Regions from separate parts of the Homo sapiens genome. Here region 1 is linked to region 2. The links come from fine-mapping of genetic effects on gene expression. A gene starts in region 2. The other region holds a variant in brackets. All regions are shown on one strand. Distances are from middle to middle. Region 1 overlaps RGS17 (regulator of G protein signaling 17). Region 2 holds the start of RGS17 (regulator of G protein signaling 17).

Evidence for each region. PIP is the estimated chance that this variant, and not a neighbour inherited with it, causes the effect. A credible set is the group of variants that fine-mapping cannot tell apart.
Region 1: its variant is the best candidate, but not a certain one, in a credible set for the expression of RGS17 in blood mononuclear cells (TOPMed, PIP 0.67).

What each region holds. Positions count from the first base shown.
Region 1 is chr6:153,101,088-153,103,998 of GRCh38, reverse strand. The region is part of intron 1 of RGS17 (regulator of G protein signaling 17); the gene reads left to right. Among named protein-coding and RNA genes, the nearest start is that of RGS17, 29 kb to the left of the region's middle. The variant C/G (reference allele first, on the strand shown) is at 1,213.
Region 2 is chr6:153,129,629-153,132,539 of GRCh38, reverse strand. RGS17 (regulator of G protein signaling 17) reads left to right here and starts at 1,258. Exons shown (of 5, transcript NM_012419.5): 1 at 1,258-1,416. RefSeq lists a silencer at 1,327-1,376.

The sequences.
Region 1 (2,911 bases), 29 kb after region 2:
ACATTCCAGAAATCAGTACACATTTTACAATCAATGATATCTTTGGTTCAATAAGATGTGGTATCCTCTTCAAAGCTTTTATATGTGAAGCTGGATGGTAATTATGGTTTAGAATCTTCCAGGTCACTCTGACAATTTTAAGATGTTTACCTCTCTTCCTCTATTGGGAAAAAGTAGCTTCTACTGACTAATGATAATGTGGTTTTGTCTTAAAACGTTTAATAGCCATTCTTTTGTGGATTGTCTTTAAAATTTGTTTCCTGATTTTACCCAAAAGAAAAGAAAAGATAAGATACATTTTTAAAGCATTAACAACAGAATAATTTGCTCAATTTATTTCTTCTCAAGAATAGGCTGGCATTTGGTTTTTCGGGGTCTCTCTACCTGTGTGTTTGCCTCAGTTTGGTTTACACTTTCTCTTGCCTTTGGTTTGATCATGGAGGACAAGAATAGACGAATATCCTGGCAACCTCAGCAACTGCACTTTAACATAATATGGTTGCTAGGAGAAAAGGGTGGTAGCAGCACTTGAGAGGAAGTGTGGCTCTGCTGTCCTGGAGGAGCCGGTGACAGAAGCCAACAGCTCACAACAGCATCCTCCACCCCGCCTTCTGCTGAAGGTCACGGAAATATAACTATCGTATCAGTGGTAATAATTATGGCATATATTAAATAAATTATGAACACAAAGGGAATAAAAAGTTACTTCTAGAGATGTCATCATAAAGATATGAAACATCTCAGCCCATTATTCCTTAACCACTGTTTGATTAAACTGAAACTCCTAATGCTGTGTTACAGTCCAGCAGCAGGTCATTACTCAAATGTTAGATCCTCCTGTATATCTTGTGATTTATTGTATTGTCCCTGGTTTTCAGCTAACGAAATTGGAAAAGAATAACTGAAGAGTGCTGTCTGGGTTATTGTAAGAAATTCTACACCCATTAGCCATATTCTTTATTCACTGAGCTATAAAAATTCTGAGATGGATGTAATATACCACCATAATGCTTTTCAATAGCAAAAGCTTGTTGTAGAATTCATTTTATTCATTCAGCAGTTATGGCTGAGAGTCTACCAACTGCCAGCCACTGAGTATCAGGGCAGTGACTAAAAATAAATATTTTAAGATAGAATGCATAAAACAAGACACATACACAATGAACATGGAATGCCTAATGTTTGCATTGTAGTTTTTCTTTATTTGAAGGG[C/G]ACAACAAAATGCTTTGGGCCTAACCCTTATTAGCATTTGAAAGAAAGTAATATTCAGAAAAGAAAAAACATTCGAGGATCTGCCCACATAGGCCAGGCCTCAGTTGACAACTGTGATTAGATTCCTCCACATGTAGAGAGGGGCCTGGAGAAACTCTAAGGAACCATCTCTGTGACATTGACAGCGTTACTCACTCACTATCATGAGAACGGCATGGGGGAAGCTGCCCCCATGATCCAATCACCTCTCACCAGGTCCCTCCCTCAACACGAGATGAGATTTGAGTGGGACACAGAGCCAAACCATATCAGACCCTGTTTGTTTTACTAGTAAAGATATGTATCAATATATAGAGTTCCAGTATAATTGATTGGTTTGTTCCTGCATAGTCCAAATCACATTGGTAAGAATGTGACAACTCTAGAACTAGTCTGTCTGAATTTTCACACAGGTTCACTTACATACATACATGTTATTCTTGTAATTTTACTTGACAGGTAAGATGTGTTAATTTTGCCTGTTTTACCCCTAGAGAAAAACTAGAGACAAAGTGTGTCTCTGTCATGTTCCATTTCCTGTCCTCCTTGCTGGTGTCCCATCAGACTCTCTCAGAGCATCAGCTGGGGTCCAACTGTTAGCACTGAGTTAAGTGATAAGGCTTATCATTTTCCTTAATAGAAGACTGTGCAGAAGCAAAATGCCTTCAAGTACAAAGGCAGATCGTTGCATTGATGGCAGAAATGCCAAACAATGGATTTGATACCTTGTTGGTAGGTACCAATTCATAACCACCTGTATTAGTCCATTTTCACACTGCTATAAAGAACTACCTGAGATTAGGTAATTTATCAAGGAAATGTTTAGTTGACTCACAGTTCTGCAGACTTAACAGGAAGCATGACTTGGGGGTCTCAGGAAAACTTATAATCATGGCAGAAGGTGACGGGGAAACAAGGCATGTCTTCTTTTGGTGGCAGGAGAGAGAGAGAGAGAGTGAAGGGGGAAGTACCACATACTTTCAAACAACCAGATCTTACGAGAACTCACTCACTATCACAAGAACAGCAAGGAGGAAGTCTGCCCCCATGATTCAGTCACCTCCCACCAGACCCCTCCCTCAACATGTGGGGATTACTGTTCAAGATGAGACTTGGGTGGGGACGCAGAGCCAAACCATATCACCACATAACATATGTAGTCACCAACAGTAGCATATACTGTTAACTGCTAAGGCCAACCCTACCAGTCTCCAGTTCCATTTTATGAAGGAATTCTTCCGTATATAGAAATGACATCTGCCATCACTTTTAAATCGGTAGCATACAATATGATCACTAATAGATGCAGTCTTCCCTTGGCCTCCATGGCGGATTGGTTCCATGACCACCCGAGGATAACCACATCCATGTACACTCAAGTGCCCAGTTGGCCCTGCAAAACCCACATATGGGAAAAGTCAGTGCTTCTTATACTATGCAGTTTTGCATCCTGTGAATACTGTACTTGCAGGTCACTTTTGGTTGAAAAAAATAAAACTGTGTATAAGTGGACTCCGCAGTTCAAATCCGTGTTGTTCAAGGGTCAACTGTATAGAGTATTCATAGTCTTTGAAATCTAACACACTAGGTTCAAATTTTTATTCCGTTGCTTGGAACATGGACAAATTACTTAAATTTTTCAAAACTCAGATTTCATTTT
Region 2 (2,911 bases):
TTTCTGTTGTTTATAAGCCATCCAGTCTATGGTATTTTGTTATAGCAGCCTGGAAGACAAAGACAAATACTTCTGTGAAATCCAACAAAAATGAAGACACTTTGAAGAGCACTAGTACTCAAAGCCATGGGAGGCCCTGGAGGAGGCCCTGAGACATATTTAACCCAAGTACCCGTGAGTCTATGAGGATGGAGGCACAGGAGAGTTCAGTAGGCTGAAATAACACAACGCTTGCTTACATGAACACACAAGGAAGGGGAACTCACACAGATTTACAAGTAATCTGTTTTAATTAGGTGTAAGAAAAAAAAGCCCATTCACTCCTGCAGGAACTCCCTCCTCTTCCCACAGATGTGGTATCTGAAGAGCAAGACACTGCTTCTCCACTTCCTCCGCACAAACACTTTAGTCTAATCATTGGAGATGCAATCTAGCGCTCGGGTTGCATTAAGTATCCCAAGCTCCTTCCCTACCAAGCTGGGCTCCACTTGGGCACAGAACGATTATCAGACCTGGTAACTACCAAGCTGTCCCCTAAGGATGCTCTAGGCCCCAAGCATCAGCACCTCCGTTAATAATTCTCCACTCTTGCCTTGTCATCGGCTTTTCTCACTCAAAACTCTGCTCCAGCGAGTGGTCCGGGCGCCTGAGGCAGCTGGCATGGGCTAGGCCAGAGAGCACCTGCACTGATTCTTAGGAGAAAAGGTCCTCTTTCTGGGCGAGGAAGTCAATAAAGTAAAGGACGCTTCATAAAGTCCTTCGGGAAGCAAAACTTGCTTAACTTCACACTTCCTTGAACCCCCACGCAGGGAATGCTTCCTCCGGGACCCGGAGCAGGCAGGCTGCTGTGCCTGGCAGGCCGGCTCCTGGGTGCAAGGCTCCCGCGCAGCCCAGGACAGCAGCGCGCGGGCTACGGGCGAGTGGAGTTGCAGGGGCCCGGGCGGAGAGCCGCTGTCACCCAGGGAAGCTCTCGGGACTCCGGGCCTCCCGCGAAGCTCCGGACGGGCGTCACCGAAGCCGAGAGTCCCGGCCGAGCCCCTCCGCACGGTGGGCGCCGCGCCCAGGCGAGCGCGCGAGGTCGGGCGGGGCCGGGGGCCGCCCGGGGAGGGGGCGGGGCCGGGACTCTCGCGGCCGCGCGCAGGGGCTGGGAAGCTGCCCCTCCGGCCGCGCCGGGCGAGGGGCTGCGCCGGCCCGCGAGGCGCATGCGCGCTGCCGAGCGGCTCTCGCTCCCTCCCCGCCCACCGCTCCCTCCTCCCCCTCCCCCTCCTCTGCATCCTCGCCGCTCTCCCTCTCTCCTCGCCCGCTGGGTGCTGAAGTTGGGCGGATGGCAGCAAACCGGCTCCGCTAGAGGACCGAGCCGCCCAGCCCCGCTCCCCCGGACCCATCGGCGCGCTGCCCACACCTCCAGGCGACCGGGTAAGACGCTGCCTCCAAAACAAGCGGTGCTAAGTAAATGACATCAAAATGTCTGCTTTGCACCAATGGATGGATTTTTTTCAAGGTAGGGGGGAGGTGAAGGAAGGAGGGGGCGGAGAGCGCGACCGCCCATGCCCCGGCGGGGGCGGCTGCGCGGCGCTGGGGTCTCAGCTGTGGCCGCGGCGCCCTGAGCGGGAGCGGGGGCCGCGCCGCGGGTCCGGGAAGTTGAATCCCGCGTCGCTGCCTGGACGCGGTCCGCTCGCCGCCCTCAGCTGCTGCAGGGAACCGGGCGAGTGTCCTGCCCGCCGGGGAACGCTCGGCCAGGTCCCAGAGTTCCCGCGGAGAGCGGGGCGCCTGCTGGGGGCGGCCGGGAGGGCCGGGCCAGGGGCGCGGGAGACCCCGCGGGGACGCGAGGTGTTGCGGGTTTTGTGCGGTTGGTTGGGAACGAGGAGAATGTGCCATCAACAGTGTCCAATCGACTGATCACCTTGGGTGCTGTGTTTCCTCCCTTATCTCTCTTTACCTTTGGGAAAATGCACTGCTCAGGTGGGGAAGGTGTTCGAAGAAGAGGTTGCGAAAATGAATCCTTTGACCAGCAGTAAAATACCGGAGGGGTGTGTGTGTGTGTGTGTGTGTGTGTATGTGTATGTATGTATAGGGGGTGGGGGGTCTCTTTTGTTCCTTCCCCTCCCCTTAGTCAAAGGAAAGGGAGTCCTGGCGTGTGCGGCGCGGGGTGGATTCCACAGCCACCGAGGGGGCGAGGACGAGGAACGCCCACCAACCGCGAGTCGCTGCCCGGGTGGGCGCATCGGAGCCTCCTTTGCTGTAGGTGATGGTGGTCTTTCCGTGATCGATGGAATCATAGTTTAATCTCTGCCTCCCCGCCAGCCTCCCTGCTGTCCCTCATCGAGTGCTGCGGCAGAGGCTGGGTGCAGACACGGCCGCTTTCTCCTCTTCTCTCTGCCTCCCTGTCTCCCTGAATAAATGCCGGAGGACTAGGGGATGGCGGAGGGACAGAGCTGGACTCGGAAGCCGCGGGTGGGAGCTGCTCCTCGCGAGCCCGAGGCTGCTGGCACCTTGTCGCGGGCAGCCCGCGCCAGCCTCGGGAGTCCCTGGGCTCCGGGAGAGCGAGCCGGGGTCGCCTGGCCACAAAGATGCCCGCGCGCCCGCCCTGCGTACGGGACCCGCCCTGCGCCCTGAGCCCTGCGCCTCGCCCGGAGCCCGGGACGTCGGTTCACGTGGGAGAACCCCTGTCGCCCGGGGACGATTGACCCTGGCTCCTGGCATAACTCTCCTGACCTCCCCTGACCTTTCCATAAATGCTTCTTTCAAAAGATTCACTATAAGATTTGTCTGGAGAACTTCACACTCTTCAGAGTTATTTCTTTCTTTTCTTAAATTGTTTTACGGCGAGATTCTCTCCAGCGTGGGATGGCTTTCACAAATAATAAAGAGAAATCTTAGTTTGGTTCCCATCTAGAATAAGCAGTTCTGA